Regions from separate parts of the Homo sapiens genome. Here region 2 is linked to region 1. A link means that fine-mapping ties the variant in region 1 to the expression of a gene that starts in the linked region. Tissue or cell type: lymphoblastoid cells. Region 1 holds a variant in brackets; the other region holds the start of a gene. All regions are shown on one strand. Distances are between the middles of the regions.

What was found. PIP is the estimated chance that this variant, and not a neighbour inherited with it, causes the effect.
Region 2: KLHL23 starts here. The variant in region 1 is fine-mapped to the expression of KLHL23 in lymphoblastoid cells (GEUVADIS, PIP 0.91).

What each region holds. Positions count from the first base shown.
Region 1 is chr2:169,535,632-169,541,665 of GRCh38, forward strand. FASTKD1 (FAST kinase domains 1) reads right to left here. Exons shown (of 15, transcript NM_024622.6): 10 at 4,420-4,548; 11 at 2,382-2,510; 12 at 1,596-1,709. Among named protein-coding and RNA genes, the nearest start is that of KLHL41, 29 kb to the left of the region's middle. RefSeq lists a silencer at 1,809-1,957. The variant CAAA/C (reference allele first, on the strand shown) is at 3,044.
Region 2 is chr2:169,731,265-169,736,235 of GRCh38, forward strand. KLHL23 (kelch like family member 23) reads left to right here and starts at 2,568. Exons shown (of 4, transcript NM_144711.6): 1 at 2,568-2,823; 2 at 3,749-4,963. The coding sequence starts at 3,751. All of the region lies in intron 3 of PHOSPHO2-KLHL23 (PHOSPHO2-KLHL23 readthrough), which reads left to right. RefSeq lists silencers at 2,439-2,878, 2,899-2,968, 3,079-3,258.

The sequences.
Region 1 (6,034 bases):
ATACCCAACTCAATCCTGATTAACATAAAATCAAAGGAAAGTTGTGTTTTATAGCACAAGATGAGAGCATTAATGATTATCTAGTTCACCTTCCTGCCCAGTGCAAAAATCACACACATCTATCATCTGAATACTCAGCCTCTGCCTCAACATTACTTCTTCAGAAAGCAGTCAATAATTCTCATTATACCAAGTTAAAGTCTGCTTCCTTTCATTTTTACCATTTTGTTCATCTTTGAGATAGAGATATCTAGTTCTTCTACTTAACAATCCTTCAAACATTTTAAAACATTATGGTCCCCATAAGACTTCTATTTTTCAGACTAAACATCCTTTTTTTTTTTTTCAAGTAAGATTTATTGGGCTGGGCACAGTGGCTCACACCTGTAATCCCAACACTTTGGGAGGCTAAGCTGAGGCAGGAGGATCGCTTGAGCCCAGGAGTTTGAGACCAGCAACATAGTGAGACCCTGTCTCTATAAAAAAATTAAAATAAAAATAAATTCATTGAGCACTTACTATGTTCCAAGGATAGTGTTAAATGCTTTACATGCAATATCTCAGTTAATCCTATCAAGTAGGCATTATTATCCCCATTTCACTGATGAAGAAGTTAACAAGGTTCAGAAGAACTTGCTCAAGGATTGAAATCCATGCAATCCTAGTCCTCTCTAGTTCTGTCTACGACATGATTAGACAAGATCCTTCACTATCTGTCCTCCTTTGTTTCTAGACCCTAATTGTCACTGTCTCTTAAAAAGGACAACATGCAAAAAATATATATATATATATTAAGGTGTCTAAAAAATAGAATACAATGGGATTACCAACTTTTTTGTTATTATTAACAATATAGTTTAAATAGTATTTGATTTTTGGCTACCATTTACACTGTTAGTTTATACCAAGTTTATAATCCTTTTAAATATCCTGTATATGCAGAGGTTTTCTAAACCTAAATTTAGAAAGTTTATGTTAATTATCTTGAAATTTTATCTTTTTCATTTAAGATCACCACTTGAATGTGGCAATATCTTTGAAAATTTTATATTGCCATCAACGTAAGCTAGTCCACCAGCTTTATGTGATCCACAATTCAATCAGAATGCATTCTACAACTAGACCAGTTGAGAAACAAGATTAATCAGGTTAGCATCAAGCACAGTATCTTTGGAAATCTTTATCCAGGCTGATAGACCAACTTAGTTTTTCAGATGAACTTAAAACAATGAAATAGAAATTAAAGAGTCATTTCCCTTATTTTCACACACTGAATGGAGAGGACAGAATCTTTTGAAGATCCAGAAATGTTCAGTGAATCTGAATCTGGGTTTTACTTAGAATTGGTGGAGGACTGACCTTAATTTTTTTTTTTTTTTTTCTAAAGAATAGAAAACGCTCTTGGTTATCAACACTGGGCCACGGGAACTTGAGGATTTATTCTATTGCTCTTTCTATCTCCGTTTGAAAATTTTAATAATAATAACAACTTGAAAAAAATTCAAAAAACTTTAAAAAATTCCAACTGATAAGATGATTCTATTCAAATTAGTTTGATTTTCTGAAAGTAACTAATAACCTACCCAATAACTTACCTACTTTGTGGTAATAAGGCGTAAGAACCGAGGCTTTTACACAATTGATTCCTCCTAGTACCTCTGCTAACATTTTAAAAATCTGCTGTTGTGTTCCATCCATGCCACCAATACCTTTATAAAAAAATAAATAATTAGTCTACTTAATCTTTTTTTTCTTTTTTTTTTTCCTTTGAGACGGAGTTTTCGCTCTTGTTGCCCAGGCTGGAATGCAACGGCGCGATCTCAGCTCACTGCAACCTCTGCCTCCCCAGTTCAAGCAATTCTCCTGCCTCAGCCTCCCAAGTAGCTGGGATTACAGGCATGTGCCACCACGCCCAGCTAATTTTGTATTTTTGTTAGAGATGGGGTTTCTCCATGTTGGTCAGGCTGGTCTCGAACTCCTGACCTCAGGTGATCTGCCCGCCTTTCAGCCTCCCAAAGTGCTGGGATTACAGGTGTGAGCCACCGCGCCCGGACTTAATCAGTTTTTTAATGAAAATCATCCCAGTTCTACAAACTGAAAAATAAAGATTAATAATTTCAATAAGAGCTTCAATGTAGTGTCTTATATAATGACACTAAATTCAATACAAGTTCTTTGCTCTCAACTAGGAGGGTTATGTCCCAAATATGAAGAAATTCTTATAATGTTTCACCTACAATATCTCATATAAAATATTAAACAGGTCATGGCACTCTTGGGAAGGCTCGTGTCATGTTTAAGTATAACAAGATTAACAATGTACTACCTAATAATTTACTTTAGAATCAAACTTTGCTATCTGACTAAAAGAAAACTCAAACCTTTATTATATTGTTGACAGAAGCGGTCATGAAACCATGGAATCTGAAACTCAGGGCATTCCAAGCAGACTGATCTATTTAACTCCATAAGATGAAACTGGACTCTTGCACTTCGAGATGGAGATAAAACTGAAATTAATAAAATACTAATGAATTTTGATAGCTGAGACCTAGGAAAGACAACCCATTTTTTTCACATTCATTTATCCCCACTATTAGTAGATGCTTTTATTCTAACAGTATTTAGAACTGTTTACATTTCTAATTTACAAATGTATGCTTTATATTTTTAAATTATTACATTCAGTGACATGATTAGGACCAACTCCTGCACTGTTCTCATTAATCATGAACGTTAAAAGTACATTTAAAAAATACTCCCAGCAGGGCACGGTGGCTCATGCCTGTAATCCCAACACTTTGGGAGGCTGAGGTGGGCGGATCACCTGAGGTCGGGAGTTCAAGACCAGCCTGACCAACATGGAGAAACCCCGTCTATACTAAAGGTACAAAATTAGCCAGGCATGGTGGTGCATGCCTGTAATCCCAGCTACTCAGGAGGCCAAGGCAGGAGAATCGCTTGAATCCAGAAGGTGGGGTTTTGGGTAACCAAGATCATGCCATTGCACTCCAGCCTGGGCAACAAGAGCAAAACTCCGTCT[CAAA/C]AAAAAAAAAAAAAAAAAAATACTCCCAAGATTTTTCATTCACCTAATATTCCACACTTAGGATTTTATCCTAAGGAAACAATGATTCATGTATAACAAATCATTACTTACAATGATGAGGAATTGGAAACAATCTGTGACAAATTTTATTATATCCATGTAACAGGATATTATGTAGCCAATAAAAAAAGACATCAAAAAATATTTAATAATATGGAAAATTGCTCAAAATATAGTTAGATGGAAAAAGGCAGCATATAAAAGTGAATATATAAATAATCCAAATTTTGTTTTAAAATTCATATAGGGGCCAGGTGTGGGGGCTCATGCCTGTAATCCTACCACTTTGTGAGGCCAAGGTGGGCAGATCACTTGAGGTCAGGAGTTCAACACCAACCTGGCCAACATGGTGAAACCTCGTCTCTACTGAAAACAGAAAAATTAGCCGGGCATGGTGGCACATACTTATAATCCCCGCTACTCGAGAGGCTGAAGCAGGAGGATCAATCACTTGAAATGGGAAGGTGGAGGTTGCAGTGAGCTAAGATTGAGCCACTGCACTCCAGCCTGGGAAACAGAGCAAGACTCCATCTCAAAAAAAAAAAGAAAAAGAAAAAGAAAGAAATGTAAAATAAAATAAGTCTTATAGGGACTGGGTACAGTGGCTCATGCCTGTAATCCCAACACTTTGGGAGGCCAAGGCAAGAGGATCACTTGAGGCCAGGAGTTAGAGACCAGCCTGGGCAACATAGCAAAACTCTGTCTCAAAATATAAAAATAAAAAATTTAACAAATTAAAATTAAATACAGGCTGGGTGTGGGGGCTCACACCTATAATCGCAGCATCTGGGAGGCCAAGGAGGGAGAATCACTTGAGCTCAAGAGTTTGAGACCAGCCTGGGCAATACAGTGAGATCCCAGCTCTTAAAAAAAAAAAATTAGCTGGGCATGGTGACACACGCCTGTGGTCCCAGCTACTTGGAAGGCTGAGGTGGGAGGATCACTTGATCCTGGAGTCCAAGGCTTCAGTGAGCTATGACTGCACCACTGCACTCCAGCCTGGGCAACAGAGTGAGACCCTGTCTCAAAACAAAACAAAAAAACACAGATATATAATCATTCACATAGGAGAAGGAGAAAGACAAAAAAGAAATACTCCAAAACATTAAAAGTGGTAGTTTTACTTGTTAGTAAGATGGGTAATTTTTTATTTTCTATTTTATTCCTGTGTTTTCCAAATTTCTACAATAAGCATGAATACTATTAGAAACAGAAAAAAGTTATTAACATTAAAATTCTTCAGTATAGATAGACCTGAGACTTGGATATAAAGTACAACAGATAATTAAATAAATTAAAAGATAGATACATACTTTCAAGTTGAGAATCCAATCTAGCTAAGAATTTGATGTTAAAAATTGCCTTTAGCAGATCTTCTGGAAAATATTCAAGTGTGGCCAAAGAGAAACCAAGAAACACTAATATAAAAGGATCCAATATACCTAAAAGAAAATTAAGATTTTTTTAAAGGTATAGCTGCCTCACTTATATATACACTTATAATTTATTCAGGCAAACCCAGGTTTTTAAAAAAAAGATACACAGCCTTGACAAAACTAATCTACACTGTTACAAGACAGGATAATGGTTAAGTGGTTACCTTTGGGTGTGAGCCAAGTAGGAAAAGGGGACAAGAGGAGAAGGGTACTGTGATAATACGCTGTGTCTTGATCTCAGTACTGATTCCCTAGGTGATTCAATTTGAATAAATTCACAGTATTATACTAAAGTTATACGAACATTTGTTATTACACTTTAGTAAGAAGTTTTAAAAATAGCCTTGGAAAAAGAATCCAAAACAAAAGGACAGTGGTGCATGTAAAAAGAAGTGATCCCAGTGTTGATGATAATAATACAATAGTGTTCAGAATATGTTACATACCATTCTAAACACTTTAGATATATTAACTCACTTATATCTTATATCAGTAGAAACAATTATCTCCACTTTATAAATAAGCATTAGGAAGCAGAGAGGTTAAATGACTTGCCCAAGATCAGAGTTGGCAGCGGAGAGTAGGGTTTAACCCAGAATGTCCAGCTCTGGAGCCTGGATTATTATACTATGCTGCTCTCTGGGAATCTCAGATCTCCAAGCAGAGTGTACACATGTTTGAGGCTGAGGTCTTGCCTAGCACCTGCTCCTTTACTTGTCACCCAGCAGCATGGCAGATGCCCCACAGTATAAGGCTTCAACTATTTACCTGATTTGCCTCATCCAAGAGACATTTCTAATGTGGCGGAAAGGGTCACCTAAAATGCCTGACTGGCATAGGTATTCTTACTAAGGACAGAAGAGACAACATTAAATCTTTCCTTTTCAATTTTTTCTAAGTTTATTTAATAAAGAAAGACCAGATCATAAATGAAGTTAATAGTGATGATTTCTACCAGCAAAACTAATCTGTCAAAATTCGTCTTTACTCAAAACAATGAAAATTATTACTCCATTAGTTATTTAAAATTTTACTTATAAAGTTCCCTAGGAATTTTTAAAACTTTCTCTGATTAAGTTTTAAAAACTCAAAGCTGTACTTCTCAATCTTTCTTTCCTTATACTCTTTAGCAACAAAATTTTCTAATTTCTAAGACTCTATTTGGAGAACCTGGGAAGAGATGCACTTTCATTTCCTTCTGGTTGTCAACACATGACTGAACAACCAGGAGAATACAGTCTAAGTCTCAATTTAAAGTCTCATCTTTCTACATATAGTTGTGTTACTAAAAAGGGGTATAAATGTATACCATACATGCAACACATTCATATACATATATACATACATATATCCCAGCCTCACGTTGTAGGCTGTGACACAGTAGTATCAGACATGGTTAGATGCTGTCTGGCCCATAGATCCCACAAAAATGTAGCAAAGTCCATTAGCATGATGCAGACACAATTAATATATTTATACTTGCTTCATACCA
Region 2 (4,971 bases), 200 kb after region 1:
GCAATGGTCTCTTTGATAAGCACATGGTAAAGAGGAACTATGCCAGGCAATACCCTTCAGGACCTGCTCTTCTCTTAGCAAAGTGAAGCAGTATAATAGTCTAATATGTAATATACACTGATATACACTTTTAAGTAGTAATTCACAACCAGGGAACATCACGAAATGAAAGCAAGAGTTTTAGTTGGTTCATGCAGCCATCTGAAATAACTGCATAAATGAGAATATAGTGAATTCTATTATTCATGAATCATTTATTATTACATGTAGTTATGATTCCAGAAGCCCTTACTCCAAGTTAGATGGAGCCTATATTTTTTTATACATCAAACTTGGCAAACAGTAATTATAGCTGCAAAAACAGCCATCTCTACACTTCAGTGACAAAAATGGAGAGAAGTCTCCTTCAATCAGTCACAATTGTGTCCTTGAATGGCAACAGTGACAACAGCATCACTATCAGTTATGAAGGGCAAGCTATAATTACTATTAACTATGAAGTTCATAATTTCTGAAGAAATGTTAAGAAGATGCTAATTTCCAAATTAAGGTTGTGATGCAGAATTAAGTGTAAATATTCTTTCATTATAGTAGCTAACATTTATATATCAAGTCCTAAGTGCTTCATTATTAATTTGTCTTTCCAATAACCTTAGGTTAGGTTGAGAAAGTATCCATGTTGTCTGTGTTTTACAGATCTGAAGACGAAGGATCAGAGAAGTTTAGTAATTTGTGAGAGGCTATATGTTGGATAAGTGGCAGAGATGAGCCTTAAGCCCGAAACTAAATCTCATATGCTTTCCTTTTCTAACTATACTGTTTACCAGATGTTGGGATGTTAAACTTTCATCCTTCTTCCTTTTGGGTCCAACACATTCTCTTATTTGTCCATAAGAATCACCTGCTGCCCTTGATTAGAATGCAGATCCCTAGGTCTCCACCCCGCAGACGTCTGTGCGTGGGGTGTGGTAGTTGTGGGGGCTGCATAACCAGCATCTTACATAATTCAATTAAGATGATCTGACTTGTGGAATTAAACTAAAACCCACCCACAGGAGAACCAACAGATGCTATTTATTCAGAGTTTGCTGTAGAAGGGAGTCCCACTCACCATCACTTTGTCAGAGGCTCAAAGGTGGGGCAGACGAGTGGGAAAGCTTTATAGAAGTGAAGAAAAGCCCCCGGTATGCTCTGATTGGAAGTTGTTGGCATGGGAAAGCTGCAGGTGGGCTACTAGAAGCGGGGGTATTTTATGTGATGGGTTTGCGGAACATATTTGGCTTTCTCTGGTTGGTGCAGAGGTGGAACTAGGGGTAAAAATAGGGAAGTTGCACTTTGGAAGTCCCAGGCAGGAAGATCGCTTGAGTCCAGGAGTTTGAGACCAGCCTGGGCAACATAGTGAGACCCTGTCATGAAAAAATATTTAAAATTTTTCAAAAATTGCACATCTGTAGTCGTAGGTACTTGGGAGGTTGAGGCAGAGGATCTCTTGAGACCAGGAGATCGAGGCTGCAGTGAGCTAAGATCGTGCGACTACATTCCAGGCTGGGCAACATAGCAAGACCCTGTCTCAAAAAAGAAAAAAAATAGGGAAATTGCCAGTCGTTGACTACTTCCTGACTGTTCTGGTTCAGCTGCTACCAAGGTTGTGGTCTGGCTTCCTGGGCTTCTTATGTGGTTCAGAGTTCTGTTGTCACATACTATCTGGCCATTCATGTATATTGCGTTTCTGAGACCATACTCTGGGAAACACATGGTCCTCTGGTGGTGGTGAAGGTCCCTGTGAGCTAGGGACCATCTGTCAACACTCTTATCACTACTAGTGTCTATCCCTATCAGGCACTAGAAGCACTTAATAAAATCTTGCGAATGAATGAATGAATGATATACAAAAATATTTGATACTGGCTTTAGTTGGAACAAGAAAATGAACTTTGTGTACCACATAGACATCTGTGACTAGAGTGGCCGTCACCAGAAAGGCTGCTCCTTCCAGCTGCTATGCTCTAAATACAATAACCTGAATCTTAGCACGACTGGACTTCGCCTGGACTTCGCCTTGGCCCCGGCTGCCCAAAGTTTCTCTCAAAGCTTCAGCTTAACCCCTGATGTGCTCACCAGCACCAAGGCGCCCTCCTGAGTGCTTTGCTGGGGGTGGGATGGCGTTTGTGGGAAAGGCCGGCTACTTCTGGCATTTCAACGGCGCCTCCAATCCCTGACCTTTAGTTGTGCCCCATTCTCTCCACTCTTTCCCCCTTCTCTGTCCTCACGATTGAGTCTGGGCTGGCGAAGCCTACTGAGGGAGGGGAGTGTACACACATGCACACGCGCGCGCGCGCACACACACACACACACACACACACTCATATATGGTGTTATTAATAATTCAGGACTCAGAGTTTATCTAAGAGAAGACGCTCGACCGGGTGTGAGAGAGCGCGCGGGACAGAGAGCGAGCCAAGGAAGGGGAAGGCGGCGGCGCGCGCTGTCTCCTGGGGAAGCAGTCCCACCTGCTGTGGGGGGCGCCGCTGGGGAGGGGCCGAGCCGTGCTCACGCCTGCACGCCCCGCCCCGCTCGCCGCACGGCCCGGCGACGGGGGAGTTCCCGCGAGTGGCCTCGCGCCCAGACCGTGCGGGGGGCTGTTCGGGTGGAGGCGGGGGAGCCGCCGGGACACCAAAATAGGAGCTGCTTGTGGGGTGGAGCGGCACTAGCTGGCGGCTTCCGAGCGCCTCTTCCAAAGATGGTCAGAGGGGCCGGAGGCGTCCCCGCTCCCGCTCGCTACTAGCCCGCGGGCCAGCGCCGCGTCCCGAGCCCCGGCGGGAGGTAGGTGCGGTGTGGACCCGCAGCCCGAGGCCGGCCTGCTGGGAGCGAGCGGGGCCGGGCGCGGGGAGCGGGGCCGGGCGCGGGCAGCGGGGCCGGGCGCGGGCAGCGAGGCCGCGCGGGAGAGGAGCGCAGACAATGGCCGCGCGGGCGCCGGGCCGGGCCGAACGCGTTGCGCTGGGGCTGCCTGCGGCGTCCTTCCCACACCTGCGCGGAGCGCCGGGCAGAGGGACGCGGGCACCGGGCCCGCGGGCGGCACGCGGCGCCCTCGAGTCCAGCCCCGCTCCTGGCCCCGGGGCGGGGCGGTCTCCGGGCGGGAACGTGGGCCGGGGCCCAGGCGCGGGGCGCGCGGAAACCCCTGCGGCGGGCGCGGGGGAGGGGGCGAGGGCTGCAAGGGCTGCGCCGAGCTGCCTTCCTTTCTCTCCTTCCTTAAGCGAAAGGGCTCGGGATTTCCCTTTTCCGAGACCTCTTCTTGTCCATTTATATTTCCATCATCCCTTTCTTGGCATTTCGATGTGATTTGAAAGGGAGACGAGCTTGGGGAAAAGGTTGAATTGGGGCCGAGCCGAGACAGCTGAGGTCCGGCCTCGAGTGGGGTGACCCTCGGACACTTGCCTTGCCTAGTGTGGGATCTCATCTCCGAACGCCAGGCCAGGGTAGATTGCGGTGAATGGAATAGCAAATCAGTACTCTCAAAAGGACTACTGAAAAATCCAGGAGCCTCATTTCAAGCTCCGAGCTACCCTGAATTTAAATTGACCACCATATAAATGATCAAACAGTCCATCCACATTTTGCATTTATTATTTAGATGCTGAACTTAGTCCAGTTTTGGAGTATATCCGATGATAGTCAAGTTATTTAGCGTTGATTATTTGAGAGAATGTGCAACATTGAAAACACATTTGTTATTTCATATTTATTGCAGCCATGGCTCTAAAAGGACAAGAAGATTATATTTATCTTTTCAAGGATTCAACACATCCAGTGGATTTTCTGGATGCATTCAGAACATTTTACTTGGATGGATTATTTACTGATATTACTCTTCAGTGTCCTTCAGGCATAATTTTCCATTGTCACCGAGCCGTTTTAGCTGCTTGCAGCAATTATTTTAAGGCAATGTTCACAGCTGACATGAAAGAAAAATTTAAAAATAAAATAAAACTCTCTGGCATCCACCATGATATTCTGGAAGGCCTTGTAAATTATGCATACACTTCCCAAATTGAAATAACTAAAAGAAATGTTCAAAGCCTGCTTGAGGCAGCGGATCTGCTACAGTTCCTTTCAGTAAAGAAGGCTTGTGAGCGGTTTTTGGTAAGGCACTTGGATATTGATAATTGTATTGGAATGCACTCCTTTGCAGAATTTCATGTGTGTCCAGAACTAGAGAAGGAATCTCGAAGAATTCTATGTTCAAAGTTTAAGGAAGTGTGGCAACAAGAAGAATTTCTGGAAATCAGCCTTGAAAAGTTTCTCTTTATCTTGTCCAGAAAGAATCTCAGTGTTTGGAAAGAAGAAGCTATCATAGAGCCAGTTATTAAGTGGACTGCTCATGATGTAGAAAATCGAATTGAATGCCTCTATAATCTACTGAGCTATATCAACATTGATATAGATCCAGTGTACTTAAAAACAGCCTTAGGCCTTCAAAGAAGCTGCCTGCTCACCGAAAATAAGATCCGCTCCCTAATATACAATGCCTTGAATCCCATGCATAAAGAGATTTCCCAGAGGTCCACAGCCACAATGTATATAATTGGAGGCTATTACTGGCATCCTTTATCAGAGGTTCACATATGGGATCCTTTGACAAATGTTTGGATTCAGGGAGCAGAAATACCAGATTATACCAGGGAGAGCTATGGTGTTACATGTTTAGGACCCAACATTTATGTAACTGGGGGCTACAGGACGGATAACATAGAAGCTCTTGACACAGTGTGGATCTATAACAGTGAAAGTGATGAATGGACAGAAGGTTTGCCAATGCTCAATGCCAGGTATTACCACTGTGCAGTCACCTTGGGTGGCTGTGTCTATGCTTTAGGTGGTTACAGAAAAGGGGCTCCAGCAGAAGAGGCTGAGTTCTATGATCCTTTAAAAGAGAAATGGATTCCTATTGCAAACATGATTAAAGGTAAGTGG